Linked DNA regions of Homo sapiens: region 2 is linked to region 1. The links come from fine-mapping of genetic effects on plasma protein levels. Region 1 holds a variant in brackets. A gene starts in the other region. All regions are shown on their forward strands.

The links. PIP is the chance, under the fine-mapping model, that this variant and not a neighbour inherited with it causes the effect. Protein levels are from antibody-based Olink assays in UK Biobank. Linkage for the fine-mapping came from a reference panel and not from the study's own genotypes, which makes the PIPs less certain.
Region 2: FGL1 starts here. The variant in region 1 is fine-mapped to the plasma level of the FGL1 protein (UK Biobank, PIP above 0.99).

The regions. Positions count from the first base shown.
Region 1 is chr19:54,654,456-54,665,499 of GRCh38, forward strand. LILRB4 (leukocyte immunoglobulin like receptor B4) reads left to right here and starts at 8,530. Exons shown (of 12, transcript NM_001278426.4): 1 at 8,530-8,612; 2 at 9,077-9,112; 3 at 9,299-9,583; 4 at 9,731-10,030; 5 at 10,344-10,394; 6 at 10,675-10,725. The coding sequence starts at 8,579. The variant G/A (reference allele first, on the strand shown) is at 10,356.
Region 2 is chr8:17,892,010-17,903,053 of GRCh38, forward strand. FGL1 (fibrinogen like 1) reads right to left here and starts at 3,515. Exons shown (of 8, transcript NM_004467.4): 1 at 3,438-3,515. LOC124901892 (endogenous retrovirus group K member 25 Env polyprotein-like) reads right to left here. Exons shown (of 1, transcript XM_047422511.1): 1 at 10,777-11,044.

The sequences.
Region 1 (11,044 bases):
CACCAGATTCTCACCTTTGTCGACTGACTTCTGACACTTGAGTCCTGCCACTCTAGGATCCAACTACTCCCCTTACATTTAGGTTTCTCGGTTCAGTGGCAGCAGTTCCCACTGGAAGTTCTGGCCTCTCCTAATACACCCTCTGTCCTTTCCCACCTTGTCTCTGCCCTGGAGGCTGACTCTATGGATTGCATCACCAACATCTTCTTGTGTCTAGTGTCTGGTTGAGTTCAGCCATGGGAGGCACTGTCAGGAGAGCAGAGGGTGAGAGGAGAGAGAGGCCGGGGAATCTATTCCCACACGTACGCCCTGCCAGGCAATAAACTGTGCTCCTCTACCCATGACATAAGCTCCCACGAGGCACCTCCCATCTCCCAGCTCAGTCCTCAAGGTGACTTTCCAGAGACCTAGTTACATTCGGCTGTTACTAAAGAGTCAGCTACAGTCATCTAGCTGTTTCCAGTGACCACCCCCAATCCCCCATAGCTGCCTGCCTGTTTGCAGAGACCCAGCTACATGCACCTAGCTGTTTCTAGAGACCCGGCTACATCCACCTGGCTGTTTCCAGAGACCCGGCTACATCCACCTGGCTGTTTCCAGAGACCCGGCTACATCCACCTGACTGTTTCCAGAGACCCGGCTACATCCGCTGGCTGTTTCTAGAGACCCGGCTACATCCACCCAGCTGATTTCATTATCACTGACGCAGTCCCCAGCTGCTCCTATGTCTCCTGGAAATCCCCAATTGCCCCAGAGACTTTGTTGTAATTTTCTGTTCAGCTGACTCTAGGGATCTTCCTGGAGCTTAATTGCTGGCCTTAAGAATGGGCCATATTTATGCAACTGAGAGCAGAGCCCAGTTCTCTGGGCCATGCTTTCCTTTGTACATCAACAAATAATCCTAAAGACCTAAAGTCTGGCAATCCCACGCCAGGTCCTAGGGTGCACAGGTCACCTGCATCCAGTCTTTGCCTTCACAGTTATTCAAAGCTGAGCAGGGAAAAAGGAGAGCCACAGAGAAGTTCAGTGTTTTCCTTTTTATCTTTTTAAAAAATCCTTTTTTATCCTTAAAATGATTTAATCAACCAAGATTGTATATATTGAGGTGTACAACATGATGATTTGATATACGTATACATTGTGTAATGATTGCCACAATCAAATTAGCACACTCAGGACAACCAGTGCCCTAAATAGATCCCCTGGATTTGTACACGTTATGCCTTAAAGTTGGTGCCAGAGTTCCATTTATTTATTTTTATCCATATATAATAGTTGTATATAGGTTTGGGGTACTTATGATATTTTGATACTTGTATGCAATGGGTAATAATAAAATCAGGGTAATTAGAATATCCATCACCTCAAATATTTATCTTTTCTTTTTGTTGGGGAGCATTACAATTCTTTTATTCTAGTTGTTTTGAAATACACAATATATTATTGTTAACTATACTTCCCCTACTGTACTGTCAAATACTCAGTTATTTCTCCTATCCAGCTGTATTTCTATACTCCGTAACTAACATCTCCTTATCTCCCACCCTTTCCAGCTCTAGTAACCACCAGTCTACACATTTTTTTTTTTTGAGACAGAGTCTTGCTGTGTCACCCAGGATGGAATGCAGTGGCGTGATCTTGGCTCACTGCAACCTTTGCCTCCTGGGTTCAAGAGATTCGCCTGCCTCAGCCTCCTGAGTAGCTGGGATTACAGATGCATGCCACCACGCCAGGCTAAAGACAGGGTTTCACCATGTTGGCCAGGATGGTCTCGAACTCTTGACCTCAAGTGATCCACCCGCCTCAGCCTCCCAAAGTGCTGGGATTACAGGCATGAGCCACCACGCCCGGCCTTTTTTTTTTCTTTTGAGACAAGGTATTGCTCTGTTGCCCAAGCTGGAATGCAGTGACACAATCATGGCTCACTGCAGCCTCAACCCTCCAGGGCTCAAGCGATCCTCCTGCCTCAGACTCCCGAGTAGCTAGGACCACAGTGCACACCACCACGCCCAACTAATTTTTGTATGTTTCGTAGAGAAGGGGTTTTGCCACATTGGCCAGGCTGGTCTGGAACTCCTGACCTCAAGTGAACCACCTGCCTTGGCCTCCCAAATCACTGGGATTACAGGCACAAGCCACCACACCTGGCCAACCAGTCTACTCTCTCTGTTTAGGAATCCACTTCTTTAGCTCCCACGTATGAGTGAGAACATTCGAGATTTGTCTTTCTGTTCCTGGCTTATTTCACTGACCATAATGACCTCCAGTTCCAACTATGTTGCTGTAAATGTCAGGATTTCATTCTTTTTTATGGATGACCCCTCTTCCATTGTGTATACATACCACATTTTCTTTACCCTTTTATCCACTGATGGACACTTAGGTTGATTCCGTATGCTGACTTGTGAAGAGTGCTGCAATAAACACACGGGTGCAGGGACTCTTGTGATGTCCTGAGATTTTTTTCCTTTGCATGAATATTCAGTAGTGAACTCACTGGATTTTACGATAATTGCAGTTTCAGTATCTTGAGGAATCTCCGTGTTTTTTTTTTTTTTCTTTTTTTGAGACAGAGTCTCACTGTCGCCCAGGCTGGAGTGCAGTGGCGTGATCTCGGCTCACTGTAGGCTCTGCCCCTCGGGGTTCACACCATTCTCCTGCCTCAGCCTCCCGAGTAGCTGGGACTACAGGTGCCTGCCACCTCGCCTGGCTAATTTTTTGTATTTTTAGTAGAGACAGGGTTTCACCCTGTTGGCCAGGATGGTCTTGATCTCCTGACCTCGTGATCCGCCCGCCTCGGCCTCCCAAAGTGCTGGGATTACAGGTGTGAGCCACCGCGCCCGGCCGGAATCTCCATGTTTTCCATAATGGCTGTACTAATTTATATTCCCACCAACAGTGTCTAAGAGTTATTTTGTCAGCACATCCTCACCAGCATGTTTTTATTTTATTTTATTGATCTATTTATTTATTTGTTTGTTTGTTTAGATGGAGTCTCACTCTGTCGCCCAGGCTGGAGTGCAGTGGTGCCATCTCAGCTCACTGCAACCTCCAGCTCCTGGGTGCAAGCGATTCTCTTCCCTCAGCCTCCCGAGTAGCAGGAGCCTCCTGATTACAGGCGGGCGCCACCACGCCCGGCTAATTTTTGTCTTTTTAGTAGAGACGGGGTTTCAACATGTTGGCCAGGCTGGTCTCAAACTCCTGACCTCGTGATCCGCCTGCCTCGGCCTCCCAAAGTGCTGAGATTACAGGCGTGAACCACTGTGCCCAGCCCAGCATGTTTTTATATGTTTCTTTGATAATAGACATTTTAACTGAAATAAGATGATACTCATTGTAGTTTCGATTTGATGCCAGTGATGATTGTGGGTTTTTGTTTGTTTGTTTGTGTTTTGAGATGAAGTCTCGCTCTGTCACCCAGATTGGAGTGCAGTAGTGTGATCTTGGCTCACTGCAACCTCTGCCTACTGGGTTCAAGTGAGCCTCCTGCCTCAGCCTCCTCAGTAGATGGGACTACAGGTGTATGCCACCACGCCCAGCTGTTTTTTTTTCTTTTTTTGTATTTTTGGTAGAGATGAGGTTTCACCATGTTGCCCAGGCTGGTCTCAAACTCCTGGGTTCAAGTGATCCACCTGCTTTGGCCTCCCAAAGTGCTGGGATTACAGGTGTGAGCCACCGCGCTTGGCCGATGATTAGTGTTTTATATAGCTGTTGGCCATCTGTACATTTTCTTTTGAGAAGCAACTATTCAGATGCTTTGCATACTTGTTAATGGAATTATCTGGGGATTTTTTGTTGAGGTGTGTTTCTTCTAGGCCTAATTTGTTGATAGTTTTAATGATGAAGGGATGTTGAATTTTGTCAAATGTTTTTTTAACATCTATTGTGATGATCATATAATTTTTTTTTTTTTTTTTAGACAGAGGGTCTCTCCTTCACCCAGGCAGGAGTGCAGTGGCGCGATCTTGGCTCACTGCAACTTCCACCTCCTGGGTTCAAGAGATTCTCCTGTCTCAGCCTCCCGAGTAGCTGGACTACCGGTGCACACCACCACACCCAGTTAATATTTTGCATTTTTGAGAGAGATGGGGTTTCATCATGTTGGCCAGGCTGATCTCGATCTCCTGACCTCAAGTGATCCACCCATCTCAATCTCCCAAAGTGCTGGGATTGCAGGCATGAACCACCGCGCCTGCCCATGATTATATGTTTTTTGTTCTTCCTTCTGTTGACATGAGATATCATATCTATTGATTTGAGAATGTTGAAATATCCTCCCTTCTGGCTGCTGTGTGGACTGCGAGCTCTCCTACCCTCCATGGTCTTCCAATCCCACTGTCCCCAGGCCAACTGCTCCCAGACTATGCAGTAGTCTCATGTGCATGGAGCAGTTGCAATTGATCCTGGTGGTGACAGAGGGGTTGGTGTTTCAGGCATGGCACAGTCAGAGGAGGTCCCAAGGAGAGACCAAGAGGTAAACTTAAGTAGAGCTGCACCCCTTCCTTGGCATCTGTAGAACCCTGGATAAAATCAAATACGCCAACCCAAATGCCCATCAATGATAGACTGGATAAAGAAAATGTGGCACATATACACCATGGAATACTATGCAGCCACAAAAAAGGATGAGTTCATGTCCTTTGCAGGGACACAGATGAAGCTGAAAACCATCATTCTCTGCAAACTAACACGAGAACAGAAAACCAAACATCACGTGTCCTCACTCATAGGTGGGAGTTGAGCAATGAGAACACATGGACACGAAGAGGGGAAAATCACACACCGGCACCTGTCACGGGCTGGGGGGCTGGGGGAGGGATAGCATTAGAAGAAATACCTAATATAGACAACAGGTTGATGGGTGCAGCAAAATACCATGGCACGTGTATACCTATGTAACAAACCTGCACGTTCTGCACATGTATCCCAGAACTTGAAGTATAATAATAAAAAAAAAGAAAACGAAACAATGAAACATGGGTTCTTATGAATCACAGAACACCCGTGACCCCAAGTTAAGATGGAAATTTATGATTCATTCCAACTAGGTCCTGTTTTCAGTATCTCACAAAAGCTTGACTCTAGAGTGAAATATACTTGGAAATGAATGAACGACTCTTGTGGTCTTTTTACTTCTTGTAAGGCTTTAGGATCCACCCGTTTGAATACCTATGACCAGGACCTCCTGCAATGCTTCTCTCTCCACCTCCAGGCATCCCTTCATTCAGATAATACCAATTCATCATCACCATCTGACCTCTCCTTCAGCTTCTTCACCACCCTCCATCTCAATTGCTTTCTGTTTTTCTTCTTTATTTTTTGAACTTCAACTTTTATTTTAGATACGAGGATACATGCTCAGGTTTGCTACATGGAACTATTGCACCCAGGTGGTGAGTGCAGGACCCAGTGGGTATTTCTTTTATCCTGTCCTATTGCGTTAAATCTTTCCTTCCCGGGACTGGTCCTATCTCTAAACTTTTTGCGTAGTGATTTTATCAACTTAATTTTTGCTAGGATGCTAGATTTTCTAGGAGGGGAGGTAATTTGAAATGAAGTCTGGGTTACTGTGAATCCAGTATATCTGCTTTGCTCGCCTTTATCTCTTGTGTCCTGGGATGGCCACAGGTTGACATGTTTAAATGTTTCTTAAGTGAGGATGGATAAGATTTACTGAGTGGTGAGTGCACGAATACAAAAGCAAAATGAGGCCGGGCGCGGTGGCTCACGCCTGTAATCCCAGCACTTTGGGAGGCCAAGGCGGGCAGATCACCTGAGGTCAGGAGTTCGAAACCAGCCTGGCCAACATGGTGAAACCCCATCTCTACTAAAAATACAAAAGTTAGCCGGGTGTGGTGGCAGCTGCCTGTAATCTCAGCTCTCAGCTACTCGGGAGGCTGAGTTAGGAGAATTGTTTGAACCCAGGAGGCCGAGGTTGCAGTAAGCCAAGATTGCACCACTGCACTCCAGCCTGGATGACAGAGTGTCACCCTGTCACAAAAAAAAAAAAAAAAAAGAAGCAAAATACAAGAAGTCCAGGACTGGTAAAGGCAAGGCATGTTGAGCGGTTAGAAAAGGGGTGATGACATCGAAAAACCTCCTGGCATTTCCCAGTCCTTGCCTAGCACAGGTTACTCTGAAAGCAGGACTTAAGACAAGGATATGAGCGCAGGTAACTGATTTGGGAACCAAGTTTAAGGGAATAGGGTTCCCTTATGAAAGAGAGAAGGAGAGGAATTCCTGAAATCAGCATGCATTGCGGACACCACTACAGCAGGTAATATGGACAGGTCCACACCAGGATCTCTGATAATGTGCAGACCATCATCCAGAACTTCCCGCCAAAACAGGAGATACTCGCCAATATGTGTATGGCTTTCTAGCCCCCATTTCTGGGAGTTTCTTTTTCCCCAGCCACTGTCAGACGCATCAAGCTTTGGCTGAAATAGCTTCCAATAAGGTCCTTACACACAAATGTGGAGAGACACATGGAAATCCTCGAAATGAGATACTGTCCCGTGATTCTGAGAGTGACCCAAAAGGATACGGAATGAGGTACTAAAAGCAGGTGCTTGGAAACCTGAGGGCAGTGGTGTTCATGCGTTTCCCGGCACTTTGACTTTCAGCCTCCTGCAAGCCTCTCCTTCTTTGCCTTCCTGACCGTTAGATACAATTAATTTGGGGTTTGTTTTTTCTGCTTCCTCTTTCCCCTCCCACCCTATGTTTCAGTTCTAAAGTTAGAAGGTCCTCTCATCCTTTTAAGAAGAACAGAGACAGAAAATGGTTAGTCACCATCTAGGACAGACTACAATTCCAGATCATTGCAGGACGTGCCCACTCAAATGGATGATTATTGAGAGCTGGCCACCTGAAGTGTTTTACACAGGCAGTGATCTAAGGGTTGAAGCTATCTGGCCTTTTTGCTTGCTTGTTATGTATTTATGGCTTTTTTCCTTTTCAAAATAATTTTACTAAATATTTAATTCACCAACTATATATATTTATGGGGTACAATGTGTTATAAATGTATACACTGTGGAATGATGGAATCAAGACAGTTAACATGTCCATCACTCCGCATACTAACATCTGTGAAAACATTTAAAATCTATGCTTGGCTGGGCGTGGTGGCTCATGCCTGTAACCCCAGCAACTTTGAGAGGCTGAGATGGGCGGATCACCAGAGGTCAGGAGTTCGAGACCGGCCTGGCCAACATGGTGAAACCCCATCTCTATTAAAAATACAAAAATTAGCTGTGAGTGGTGGCGGGTGCCTGTAATCCCAGCTACACAGGAGGCTAAAGCAGGAGAGTCTCCTGAACCCAGGAGGCGGAGGTTGCAGTGAGCTGAGATCACACCACAGCACTCTAGCCTGGGCGACAGAGTGAGACTGCATCTCAGAAAAGAAAAAATATATATATATATTTTGGAGCTACATCGTGCTAGCGCTGCAGAGAATGAGTTTTGTTTTGCGACACAGTTTTTAGATGTCTACCGGGCTCTGGTGGAGATGGAATGTTTGGCCTCAAGTGGGCAGGTCCCATGGGACATGAGTAGCCGACCATGACCTGGCTGCGTACTGGCCCACCAAGCATTCGACTGGCGTGCCCAGCCACTCTCCGTCATCGCAGAGAAGTGCTCTATGTGAGATTTGGTTAAAGGAGTCCCTGAAGGCCTGTGGGAGGCAGAATAGTGACCTCCCAGAGATGTCCACCTCCTGAGGCCCAGACCCTGTGAGTTGGGGAAGCTTATGTGGCAAAAGGGACTTTGCAGATGTGATTAAGTCAAGGATCTTGGGTTGGGGAGATTACCCAGGTGGGCCTGATGTAATCACAAGGGGCTGAGTAAGTGAAAGAGGAAGACAGGAGGGTCAGAGTGAGAGAAGGAGGTGAGTGCATGGAAGCAGGGGGCAGATAACGGGACTGGTGGCTTTGAGGTTGGAGGGAATGGAGAGGCAGGAATGCGGGAGCCTGCAGAGGCTTGAACAGGCGAGGGAACAGATTCTCCTTGGAGCCTCCAGGAGGACACGGCTCTGATAGCAGCTTCATTTTAGCCCAGGGAGACCCATTTTGGACTTGTGACCTCCGGGACGGTAAGTCAATAAACCTACATTATGTGAAGCCACTAAGCTTGTGGTGATTTGTTATGGCAGCAAAAGGAAGCTTTATGGTTCATCTGTACCCTGAAAATGCAGGTTTTTGGTTTTTTTTTTTTTTCACTTGTTCAATGATGTACCCCCAGTGTCAGGCGCTTTGCAAACACACGATACATACGGGTTGATGTTTGGTCAAGAGAGGAATTAAGACCAGGCAGACAGCAGGCTGGGATCAGAGAGACCCCATTTCTGTCTGAAATGTCTGCAGAGAACCTGGTGCCTGCCTCAGCCCTAGCTCTGGGGAAATGAAAGCCAGGCTGGGGTTCAAATGAGGGCAGTTTCCCTTCCTGTGGGCTGCTGATGGAACAACCCCATGACGAGAAGGACCCAGCCTCCAAGCGGCCACACCCTGTGTGTCTCTTTGTCCTGCCGGCACTGAGGACTCATCCATCTGCACAGCTGGGGCCCCTGGGAGGAGACGCCATGATCCCCACCTTCACGGCTCTGCTCTGCCTCGGTGAGATTTAAAGAGGGGGAGGGGAGACCCGAGTCTTGGAGGAAATTTGCCTCACAGCCAGGCCCTGGTTCTTTAGGAGACTCAAAAATCTCAGGGTAGCCGGGCGCGGTGGCTCACGCCTGTAATCCCAGCACTTTGGGAGGCCGAGGCGGGCGGATCACGAGGTCAGGAGATCGAGACCATCCTGGCTAACACGGTGAAACCCTGTCTCTACTAAAAATACAAAAAATTAGCCGGGGGTGGTTGCAGGCGCCTGTGGTCCCAGCCACTCGGGAGGCTGAGGCAGGAGAATGGCGTGAACCCGGGAGGCGGAGCTTGCAGTGAGCCAAGATCGCACCACCGCACTCCAGCCTGGGTGACAGCGAGACTCCGTCTCAAAAAAAAAAAAAAAAAAAAATCTCAGGGTAAAGAGAGGACCTGCTCAGGCTTCCGGGGCAAATCCCTCACAGGGAACTCTCTTCCAGGGCTGAGTCTGGGCCCCAGGACCCACATGCAGGCAGGTGAGTCTGTCCCCAGCTGTCCCAGGTCCCTCCTCCTCACTGGGACAAGGGGCCACCCATGGGCAGCTGGGGGAGGAGACAGCAGTTCTGGGTGACTGATGAGGATGACGGGGGGGTCCTGGGGCTGAGAGCTGGGATCTGAGGGCTGAGGAAGGTCTTGGGATCCAGCCTCTGATTTTCTTCCAGGGCCCCTCCCCAAACCCACCCTCTGGGCTGAGCCAGGCTCTGTGATCAGCTGGGGGAACTCTGTGACCATCTGGTGTCAGGGGACCCTGGAGGCTCGGGAGTACCGTCTGGATAAAGAGGAAAGCCCAGCACCCTGGGACAGACAGAACCCACTGGAGCCCAAGAACAAGGCCAGATTCTCCATCCCATCCATGACAGAGGACTATGCAGGGAGATACCGCTGTTACTATCGCAGCCCTGTAGGCTGGTCACAGCCCAGTGACCCCCTGGAGCTGGTGATGACAGGTGAGAGGACACTCAGGGGTCCCAGCCCCAGGCTCTGCCCTCAGGAAGGGGGTCAGCTCTCAGGGGCATCTCCCTCTCACAGCCCAGCCCTGGGGATGATGTGGGAGGTGGGAGCCCCATTTAACACGGTGCCTCCTTCTCTCCTAGGAGCCTACAGTAAACCCACCCTTTCAGCCCTGCCGAGTCCTCTTGTGACCTCAGGAAAGAGCGTGACCCTGCTGTGTCAGTCACGGAGCCCAATGGACACTTTTCTTCTGATCAAGGAGCGGGCAGCCCATCCCCTACTGCATCTGAGATCAGAGCACGGAGCTCAGCAGCACCAGGCTGAATTCCCCATGAGTCCTGTGACCTCAGTGCACGGGGGGACCTACAGGTGCTTCAGCTCACACGGCTTCTCCCACTACCTGCTGTCACACCCCAGTGACCCCCTGGAGCTCATAGTCTCAGGTGAGGCTCCTGACCCTGTCCTCTCTGAGCTCAGTGGCTCCGTTCATGCCCTGCTGCCAGGAGAGCTCTGGGCAGGGATGGAGGGAGAGGGGCTCAGCCAGTGGGGGACTCAGCCCTCAGAGGGGAGGAGGACAACAGGGGCCCTCCCAGGCATGCCCATGCTCTTCTCCCTCACCTAGGGTCCAGAAGGTGCCAGGTGGACAGAGAAATGGTCCTTGGGAAGCTGCAGGGCAGATATAGGGAGAGGTTCAATTTGATGTGGAGACCCAAGGGCAACCCCAGACTCTCACCCTCCTCTTGTCCTTCTACCCAGGATCCTTGGAGG[G/A]TCCCAGGCCCTCACCCACAAGGTCCGTCTCAACAGCTGGTGAGTCTCAGAGGCCTCTGTCCAGAGAGTTTCCAAAGCCCGAGGCCTGTCTCAAGACATGCTCAGTGGATCTAAGTCCTCGTTCCAATTCTCAGCTGGGCTTGCTTCCACGGGTGTGGGAGTCGGGCAGCGACTTGGGAGGCACCACAGGCTCCCAAGGCCCTGAGGCTGGGCTGGTGAGGGGTGAGGGGGTCAAGGCTGAAGGAGATGTTGCGGGGAGAAGCCGAGCTGATGTGGGGAGCAGGGCAGCCCCAGCCCTCACATCCCTGTTCTAACCCAGCAGGCCCTGAGGACCAGCCCCTCATGCCTACAGGGTCAGTCCCCCACAGTGGTGAGTGAGGGGCTCTGAGTGGGAGGTGGGCAGGGTCTAGGGGAGCCAAGGGTGGGTTCTGTCCTAGGTTAAGGCTCCTCTGGAGGTGGTGATGTGGACAGGCCCCTCCCCTGCATGGGCCTCAGTTTCTCCAAGTGTAAAGGAGAGAGGCCTGCGGGTGGGAAAGTTCCTTTCAGCTCTGACTCCCAGCTGTGCCCTCCTGGGAGAGGAGGCCTCCCAGGGAACCTCCCAGACCCGATTCCGCAGGGGCCTGTCCGGTCCCACCTGCAGCAGAGACGGTGACCTGGGGCAGGGGAGGGGAGCAGGGCGGTGGTTCAAG
Region 2 (11,044 bases), not on the chromosome of region 1:
CAAGGTCATTACCATAGCTATCTCATAATAAGTTTTTAGTTTGACTCGTGTTTTCAGTTGGCAATAAATATGTTTTTTGAGCAAAATTATAATAGCTATGTTGCTTTTTAAATTTGTACCCTTGTGTCTTTAACTATCTAATTTTAAAATTTATCACAAAACTCAAGTAGCATAAAGGAAAAAAATAAATGCCCTTATGCAAATGGCAATTTCTTAAACATAAACAATTGCATAGTCACAGACATACAGTCATAAAGTATTTTTCATGTTACAGAAAATAAGAAACAAAAACATTTTATTATAAGGAAGCAAAAGAAAATAAAGATGGAAAACAAAATATTTAAAAAATATAAAGAGATTTTAGAAATAGCCTTGTTCCCCGAGACTAGAACATGCAGAGAAAATATAATTAGAGGAAGTGACATCATTCAGTCAAATATCATCAACACTAGAGGCTCAGAGAGGGAAAATTGTTTGCCTAAAGAAATAAAAGAGACTTTCACTAAGTATATTTACACTAGTCTGGGAAATCAGCATAACGACATGACATAAATACCATTTATTTGTGACTCCAACTCAAATTGTTCTTCTGACTGAAAATAACCAATGTATTTAATAGATTACTGATTAGGATTTTTCCTTGATAAATGAAACTGCTAAGGATTAGTAGTAAAAATAATGTCCTCTTTTTTTATGTGACAGGAAACAAATTTTCATTATTTTAATCCGCTCCCAGATAATATTCAGGAGTCAAAAATTAAAAATCATGAAATGTCTGTATCTTCTAGACTTTGCTTTAATGTTATTTGTTGAAAAATTTTTTTATTTGATTAAAGTTTTCTTATGCATTTGTGGGATCAAGTACTTTATTTCAGAAGTGAATAAATTAGCTTAAAAAGTTAGAGCTTAGCCAGGCGTGGTGGCTCATGCCTGTAATCCCAGCACGTTGAGAGGCTGAGGCAGGCAGATCACTTGGGTCAGGAGTTTGAGACCAGCATGGCCAACATGGCAAAACCCCGTCCCTACTAAAAATACAAAGAAATTAGCCAGGTGTGGTGGCACACACCTTTTATCCCAGCTACTGTGTTGGTTGAGGCATGAGAATTGCTTGAACCTGGGAGACAGAGGTTGCAGTGAGCCAAGATCACACCACTGCACTCCAGCCTGGGTGACAGAGTGAGACTCCATCTCAAAAAACAAACAAACAAACAACAACAACAAAAAACACCTAGAGCTTAAAAAAGAAATTTTCTCATTCCAATGTTTGATTCTGGCTCTTGCATAAATGGAAGTATGTTTTGAAAATGCTCTGAATGATGCACCTATATATCATATAATTTTACCTACGCACACTGTATATATACGTATATGTATGAACATAACATTATTATACATAATATGTATATATTATAGATTATATTATATATACATTATATAAGGTATATAAATATTGCTTAGCATTAGATTTAGTAAAAAATAAAGGGCTAATGAAATTTTTTTGACAGGCCTCTGTCTCTTGATGTCCTGAAATGTTTATCTCACTACCATTAAGATAATCCAATAATCAAAAAGGCACCCCCTAGTCTGGTAGCATATAAACAATAAAGCATTTCAAAATGTAATTATTTACATTTAGAAAGTCATTATATTACTTTGATTAGCTTTAGAATAATTCCTGAGAATATCTTAAGTTCTCTAAAATTTTCCATTTTCCTCCTTTGCAATTCTAACCAACATTCTCTGTAATATTGAAGAAATGCTAAGCATTAAGAAACTTGCTTTGAAATTCTGGTCTCCATCATTCATTATAGTAAACCATTATTTCTTCTGCACATCTGGCTTACAGTAAAGTTGTATCAAATTATTCTGTTCATTTATTGCACAATTAGTTGTATTTCTTTTATAATATTTTTGCCTTAGGCAGTATCAAAACTTTTAATTATTATAAAATTAAAATTGTTATCAAATGGCTGTTCTTTGGTGGACTATATTATTTTACATAATTTTAATGCTATAAATTCTAATTCCTTCCCCACTATATTTAAAAAAAATTTAATTAATTACGCTGCATTAAATTTAAAGATGAAGACATTAAATTTGTAAATGAAAAGTTCTAAAAATAATATATAATTTTTAAAAACAATTACAAAACAGAAGTACATTAGTAGCATGCAAACATTTCAAAACTGGTATGTTTTAAGCAAGCATTGTAAAAGGATATATAAAAGAAATAAAAAGGAAGGAAAAAGTTATTGAACGAAGTATGTTTAATAAGTTAGCATTCACAAACGCTATAGGACTATAATGCTTAGGACTATAACCTAAGTCAGTGAGTTAAAAATGTACCCATAAACACAAGCTTAGAGACTCCTTTTAAGCTATTTCCTTCCAAATTTTTTCCTCTTTCTGAAAATGGAATATAACTGTGCTTTTGTATTTTTCTTAAGAATCCATACTCACTGAAAGCCTTACAAAGCTAAATATAGTTGATCCCTCAAGAAATGCAATAAAGAAAAATGTTTCTGAAGTTTTTTGACTTCTGAAGTGAAAATTGTCATATAGTCCATTTTATTTTTAATTTTTTATACTGAAACTGTAAACCTATCATTTACGTCAAACTCCCATGCAATTCATTCAAAATGTAAAGGAAATTATACAAAGTGAGACTCCATCTCAAAAAACCAACAAACAAACGACAACAACAAAAAACGCCTAGAGCTTAAAAAAGAAATTTTCTTATTCCAATGTTTGATTCTGGCTCTTGCATAAATGGAAGTATGTTTTGAAAATGCTCTGGGTGATGCACCTATATATCATATAATTTTACCTGCGCACACTGTATATATATGTATATGTATGTACGTAACATTATTATACATAATTATGTATATATTATAGATTATATATACATTATATAAGGTATATAAATATTGCTTAGCATTAGATTTAGTAAAAAATAAAGGGCTAATGAAATTTTTTTGACAGGCCTCTGTCTCTTGATGTCCTGAAATGTTCATCTCATTACCATTAAGATAATCCAATAATCAAAAAGGCACCCCCTAGTCTGGTAGCATATAAACAATAAAGCATTTCAAAATGTAATTATACATATTTAGAAAGTCATTATATTACTTTGATTAGCTTTAGAATAATTCCTGAGAATATCTTAAGTTCTCTAAAATTTTCCATTTTCCTCATTTGTAATTCTAACATACCTTATTTGTATATCTGTATATTTGTATATCTGTATATCTGTAACAAAAGATACATAATTCTAAATCTCTTCTCCAAGTAGCAGAAGCAGACTCCTTGCTAGTCAACCTGACTTCTTGCAAAAGCTAATGGTTGTTACCTGAGTTTTGGTTACTATCATACCTGTGAAATAAATTAGCATTATTACAAGCATGTCAAAAATGCAGAGACATTAAATAACTTGCCTAAAGTCAGAAGTGAGTCAGAGACCCAGCTCAGGTTCCATCCAGACACTCTGCTTCCCAGGATCCTGTAACTGCATTGGGAATTTGTAATTATTTCTCCATTATTTGATTAGAAATAGGGACAATGTTGATTCTGGCTTCAATCCAGAAACAAACATGTGGACACAGGTTTAACTGAAAGAAAGCTAAAAGAGAAGATTCAAGGACAAATCCCAATACTCTGATATTTTTCTTTTTTCCCCACTTGTATGACTTTTTGTGAAAGATCCAATAATATATCTTTATAAAGATATATATATTTTACAACTTATTATTATGTTCATTCAGAGAATTTTTGTACTGTAACTTCAATAATGTTCCATTGAAGATTAAGTAAAAACGAAGTCCAGCTGAAACTTTGCTTTGTATTAAGGGTAATAACATTTTACCCACAAAAATATGAATTAATATGTCATCTCAACTAAAATATGGAGATAAGCCAAATTTTTCCTAGTTATAAAAAACAAGGCAGGTTAATAATTGCCAAGGTGAAATGGTCAGTTTATTTGCTCTCTAAGAAAAACAAAAGTATTCCCTGAGGTGCAAAATTGTGAAATTTAACTGGAAGCATCGATTATACTCTGGACAAGTTGTTCCTTTTGTTTTAAAATCCTCTAGAAGATTTTCTAATGTGTAATAGGCACTTGTTAGCTCCATTAATCGTATTGTGTAACAGTTTCTTACTGGAAATCTGGGTTCATCATTTCTTCTTTCCTTCTGATGTAACTCAAGCAGTTGTTTGCCATTTGTCCTGTGGTCCCTATTTATTCACTCAGATTCCAGTAAAATACCAAAGTTTTGTTTTCTTTCTGTTCTTTGTTATCTACTGGACTTGAGCACTGACGATGTTTGGTCTTCCCATTAAACATCTTCCTGTCCTTCACGTGGACATTTTGAAGATTATTAAGGGAAAGGTAATCCTGTTGATTTACTGGAAAAAAGAAGGAAAAAAAAAGCCAGTTAGACTGAAGTGATTTGCACACACACAGAAGAAGTGGAAATTATACATTCATAATTGTAGAGAATTCAAGCTGCTAATGTTAAATTTCAAAAGCAAAAATATGGGATTATTCGGCTAATTCAATAATGATCTCTGTGGTAAAATGACATATTTTGAAATACAAACTTATCTTTCCTTCTTGTATGCCTTTAGCTTTGTCCCCATTCAAGCAATAATTTAGCCTTGTGTTCATTTCCTCACTGGAGGGACATAACATTAACAGCAGCTAACATGTGGTATACTTATCATGTGCTAAACATGGTAATTTTATCAACTCACTCAGCCACACAGCCCTATAAGTAGGTACTGTTAATGATCTCCATTTCACAAATGACGAAACTGAGACACAGAGGTTTAAGTGACTTGCACGAGGTCACACAGCTAACAAGAGGTATAGCTGGGCTCAAAGGCAATCCTGCTCAGAATCTGTCCTCTTTTCTACTAAAGGTAGACTATGCTGTCTTTCGGAAACTTGGCTAGCATCATTACCTCAGGAGAAACTTGCAAAAGTTAATCAGGCAGTAAGGACTACTCTAGGGCCAATACTTTGTGGAGGAATTCCAAAAGCCAAATTTTCTTGGAGTAACATTATTCCATGGATGTACTGCCATAACATGGTGGAAGAACTATCATCAGGAAAGGTCAAAATTATGGCCAGGTGCGGTGGCTCACGCCTGTAATCCCAACGCTTTGGGAGGCTGAGGCAGGTGGATCACCTGAGGTCAGGAGTTCGAGACCAGCCTGGCCAAAATGGCAAAACCCCATGTATTTTTAGTTTCTACTAAAACTACAAAAATTATCCAGGTGTGGTGGTGGGCGTCTGTGGTACCAGCTACACAGGAGGCTGAGGAGGAGAATTACTTGAACCCAGGAGGCAGAGATTGCAGTGAGCCGAGATCGCGCCACTGCACTGCAGCCTGGGTGACAGAGCAAGACCCTGTCAAAAAAAAAGAAAAAGAAAAAAAGCAAGAAAGAAGAGTTGTGACCTTGCACAACTGCACCAAAGCTATGAAATGAGAATGAGACCTGAGATCACTGGCTGAAAAAAGTACAAGAAAAGCATGATATAATAGGACAACAAGTACAGTCCCACCAAGATCAGGCTGATTAGGCTCTCAAACACATTAAACGGACACTGTCAATTCTTTTTTCCTTTTCCTTTTGGAAGACCTTTTTCAGAGAACTCTTCAATTAATACATCAGTTACAGCACAATTTTCATCCAAACCCTCTGGACCCTGTATTGTGCCTGCCAGATTGAACACCTGTCCATTATTTGATACTTGACCCAGTCACCGTGGGAAGGTTTAATTCCAGATCTTGCCGCCTCCAGTCCACTCAAGCTTGCAGCGAGGAACATGTCTACTTAAGGCTGCATGAGGAACTAGACTCAGACAAATGATCTTATATCCTTGACTGTATTCTACCAGCATAAATTTCTGATGGTTATATTTTCCAAACTTGACTCCCAGTTCAGGAGGCACCCTTTTATGGGACTTATAAAACTCCATGCTCTGATTACAATGATAACATTTTAAACTTCAAATGTGCCCTTTATTAAAATATTTAGAACGGAGCGTATTGTAGATATCAAGGAAAGGGGTTGTTAAGAACAGTCTTCGTTCCACACAACTAGCAGAGCTTCCTCAGGTGGAGGTAATCAAATTCCTTCCTGAAATGCTGGTTTCAATGTCATCTCAGGCAGAGTCCTGAAAAACTAGAAAGTTTATTTGCACATAACGTAGGTCTCAGAAATTTCAATGGAGAAGCATTTTAAAATTAATAAAACTAAAACAGTTTTACTAGTGAGTTATCCTAAGTATTCCCATTATTGATGTAACTAGCAGAAAGTTTACATTAATAGATGATCAATAAATAGTTCCACCTTCACACACACTTTCTGGGAAAGATTCTGACAATATGAACTAGAAAAATAAGGGTAAAGGTGGATAAAGAAAAAGAGGAAGAAAAGAAAAATTGAGGTGCTTTGTAATGTGTCAACTTGGGTAGGCCGAACTACAGTTCCCAGAATTCCTTTTGCCTTATGTTTTCCATTAGGAGCAGTTGGCAGGCAGAAAGGAAGTGGCAGCCATCTTTGCAGCTCTCCCATGCTGTAACGTATCTCGTTGGCCTTAAGATAGTGGCTAAGCCTCCAGCTGTTTCACTTCCCTTTGGATATAATTTGGAGCCTCGTTTAGCACATTACAAATGGGTCTGGCTTCTGTAGGACACCCACATCAACCAAGGTCAGAGGCAACAAGAACTGACACAGGTTTCAGTCCGTCCTCATAGATTCCAGCTCCTGCTTCTATTACGCTCATCTACTCTCTCGCTTAACTGCAGTTCGTACTTCAAGCTCCAACATCATCCCTGGAGACAGCTGCCTTTCAAAGAGTACTTAACCAGCTCCCACAGTTGCATTAAGTCAAATCCCTTATATATCCTAGAAGCTCTGCTTCTATGATTGAACTCTGCCTGTAACTCTGAGGCTCCTGGACAGGAAAGTCGAATGCCTCAGAAGGAATTTTGTCACTGCACCATTATTTCTTCCTCCCAGAGCTCTCTGTTCTTTTGCTCACATCTGGATTGCTCTCCCTCTAGGCCTGCTACATGAGGCATGTAAAAAGTAATACTGATAGACATTTGGCAGATACTCCCAAATGTGTAGCTTCAGGTTCCACACAACCTATGTCCTCCCCTGCATACTAGTTAAGATAAAATGAAACGCTTATTCACTACTCATCTTTTCAGAGCTTTCTCACCTATGTGTTTGGATTTTTTTCCCCTCTGATTCTCAAACTAATTTTAGATTGGTTCCCTAGCAGGAAGAGTACAAAGATGTTTTCTTTTTTTTTTTCTGCCACAAAAAATAAAAAGTGTTCTTGCTGAGGAATATGTTTGTTTTTCTTTCTGTGTGTTTGCAAGGACTGTGGACTGGCATTTATTTTATGCTTCTGAATAATAACATCTTTCTTATTAAAGAAGAATCTCCCCAGAAGGTCACATGTCATTAAAAAAACAATTTTAACCAAATACACGTAAATTCTAATAGAAAACAGATTTTTTACCCGTAACACATGAAGAAGAAATTTAGCTATATTGTATAAAAATATGTAGGGAAAAAAGAACACAAGAGCTCGTGTTAAGTAAAACCACATTTTAAAATACGCCTTTAGGAACACGGAAGATGGAAGGTATCAGAAGATACTTGCTTTCATTCTACTCCTCGGTGATGATGTATCTGCTTTTTTTTTTTTTTTTTTGGATGAATTTGCAGTGTATCTTTTCATCCTGATGCCTAAATCCAGTCTCTATATGTACCTCTTTTCTCCAGTTTTTAGACTTTTAAAATATTATCTTTTCATGAAGAATTCAACTAATTGGAAAATGCGTGATTCCTACCACTATGACAATATCTGAAAGTAGAATCCTCAGGGTTGCAAGCTATTCTGACAAAATTTCTGAACTCTAGCAGAAAATGTAAAAATATACATTTGACAAAAATATATTTGCCCATTTGAATTTAAATTTTGTCTTTTTTTTACTCAGTTTTTATTTCTTAGAAAAAGGAAGACAATCTAAATATAATTCCCTGAGATATAGTTTCCTTTCACTTCAAAATAACTGTACATTAGGTTGAGAGACAAAAAAATTCATTGTCTACAATTACACATACTTTCTGATTAATCTGTTGGTTAGCCCACATTTAGTTCATCAGGCACAACTTATTTTTCTGCATGTGCATTTGGGACAATAACCGGGCATATGAAACCTTTAAAATTTACATTTAAAAATTTATATTTGCACTTGGATAACTTTGCCAATAACTAGAACTCCCTCAAAAACAAAGGCTAGGTCCCTGACTCCTATAGGCATGACCAAGAGTATACTACAAAATGATTCCTCTGAGACTGAAATGTTTTTTTCCTGCTTCCCCCTCAGAGACACATTGTGGAAAAATTCTAGAACTTTTAGAATAGACATTGTGTGCTTGACTCCAGCGATCAAAGATTCTGAAATATTGAGGCCCTATTTGAGAGTCATACACTTATACTAGTTTTATTTGTTGTTGTTGTTTATAATCTGAAGAAATGAACTTCAGCCATCTAGAACAAAAATAATTGGATTTGTTGGAGGGTTACGGACTGAGGTAAGTAGTACAATCAGTGACAGACTGATACAAGCCAAGGGAAGGCAGAATAAGGAAAGCTCCAAAAATCTCTCAAAGATGTGTTCTTGGATTTATTCTGTAGTATGCAGCCCTTAAAATGTTTTAATTTCAGTGGAATTCTGGCCTCTGTGTCTGTCCATACAAATCTCACATCCCTAAGAGGGAGAATCCAATTAGCCCAGTCATCGGTATTTCTTTCTGTTTTTTTCTTTTTCTTTCTTTCTTCCTTCCTTCCTTCCTTCCTTTCCTTTCCTTTCTTTCTTTCTTTTTCTTTCTTTCTTTCTTCTTTCTTTCTTTCTTTTTTTTTTTTTTGAGACAGAGTCTCACTCTGTTGCCTGGCTGGAGGATAGTGGTGCAATCTCAGCTCACTGCAACCTCCACCTCCCGGGTTCCAGCAATTCTCCTGCGTCAGCATCCCACGTAGCTGGGACTTGGGCATGCACCACCATGCCCAGCTAATTTTTGTATTTTTAGTAGAGATGGGGTTTTACCATGTTGGCCAGGAGGTCTCGATCTCTTGACCTCATGATCCGCCCACCTCGGCCTACCAAAGTGCTGGGATTACAGGCGTGAGCTACCACACCCAGCCATCTGTGTATTTCAGTGTACACCTAGATATATGGCACCCACACACTGAGGCCACACCTTTACTCCCTGGCCCCAAAATTTTTGTCAAATGTGGCTGCTGGGTGATCTGTTGTGAGCAAGAAAAGCTCCATAGTATGTGCCATTCTCCTACTACAAAATTAGGAAATTTCAAGAGAAATGAAAGGTGGGGATCTGTCCAGTTTAATGGAAGATTGCCTGGCTCAATAAAGATGCTCGGCAAGCCTAAGACTGCATCTCCAATGACTCTTTCACCAATGAATTAACCATAATACATGTACCCTTTTCTATTGCTGTGATGTATATAGTTGTTACCTTTTTATTTGCCTATTCTAATTTCTATGTACCCTCTCTGAATGAAATAAGTCTTAATTAGCCACCAGCCCTTCTCCTAGCCCATCCACCAAGGCTAGATGTTCTCCTATGTATTTACTTCTCTTATATCACACATCACTATATTGTGTACTGGAGCTTCTCTTTTCATTCCAGGGAGATCAGGGGCTTGTTTTTTCTTATTTCAATATCCACAGCACCCAGCATATGCACACCACACAATAGAAGCTCAGAAATATTTATTATGCATGGAATAGTAATATCACCTATTTGTATTAGCATATAATGTAAATATTCAAAATTGGTAACGATTAAACTTGATAACTTACATGAAGTGCTTATGACAATGCCTGATAGAAAATATGCGATAAATTTTCGTTTCCTTCTGTCTTGAAACAATGTCATGATTGTTTAATTCGTTCTGTAAAGAAGGAGGCAGCAGGCTGGCTCCTGGGATTGGTGGCTTACACCTGTAATCCCAGCACTTTAGGAGGCCAAGACGTGTGGATCATCTGAGGTCAGGAGTTTGAGACCAGTCTGGCCAACATGGTGAAATCCCATCTCTACTAAAAATACAAAAACAGCCAGCTGTGGTGGCAGGTGCCTGTAATCCCAACTACTAGGGAGGCTGAGGCAGGAGGATCACTTGAACCTGGGAGGTGGAGGCAAGATCACACCATTGCACTCCAGCCTGGGCAACAGAGTAAGACCCTGTCTCAAAAAAAAGAGTGAGGCAGCAATGTACAACCAAAGATAATACATCATTTCATGAAGATAATTCCAATGTTAGATTAGGAAGCTACCATGTCCAGCCTGCTGCATCATTCTTTACAGAACGAATGAAAGAGTCATGATGTTATTCTTAATAATGTAGAACTATTTGTGAAATGTGGATGCAGTGAACGTTGATGCAGACAATACAATGCCCCTAAACTCATTTTACTAAGATTCCCAAATTTACTCATGCTTTAGCACAAGAATTTTACATTTCAGTTAAGAAAGGTGAAAGAAACTTCTTTAATCTGTAATGGAAGACCTTGTAGCAGAACAAAATTGCTACCAAGAAAGTTGAAAAGTAGATATATATAAGAAAAATGTTTTTGTGACCTGGATTCACAAAGTCTGGGATAATGTTCTTGCTCAACAACTATTTAAATTGGGATTCCCTGAAAGCAGAGCCTGAGACAAAGATTTGGATACAAGTAGTTTATTTGGGAGGTGATTCCAGGGAGCATAAACAAGGGTGTGGTCAAATGAAATAGAACAGGGAGGAAAGCCAAAAAGTACCTAATGAGTGGGGGTACACTCATAGACAACTGAGGCTCCAACCTACTGAAACCTCTGAGAGCCCCACATCAGAATTTTCCTCTCAGGTGGCAGGAGACCAAGAGTAGGTATATATCCACCAACCCCAGGTCCTTGTTGCTTGAGGGTTGCTTCTGTGGTATTGATTCCACCT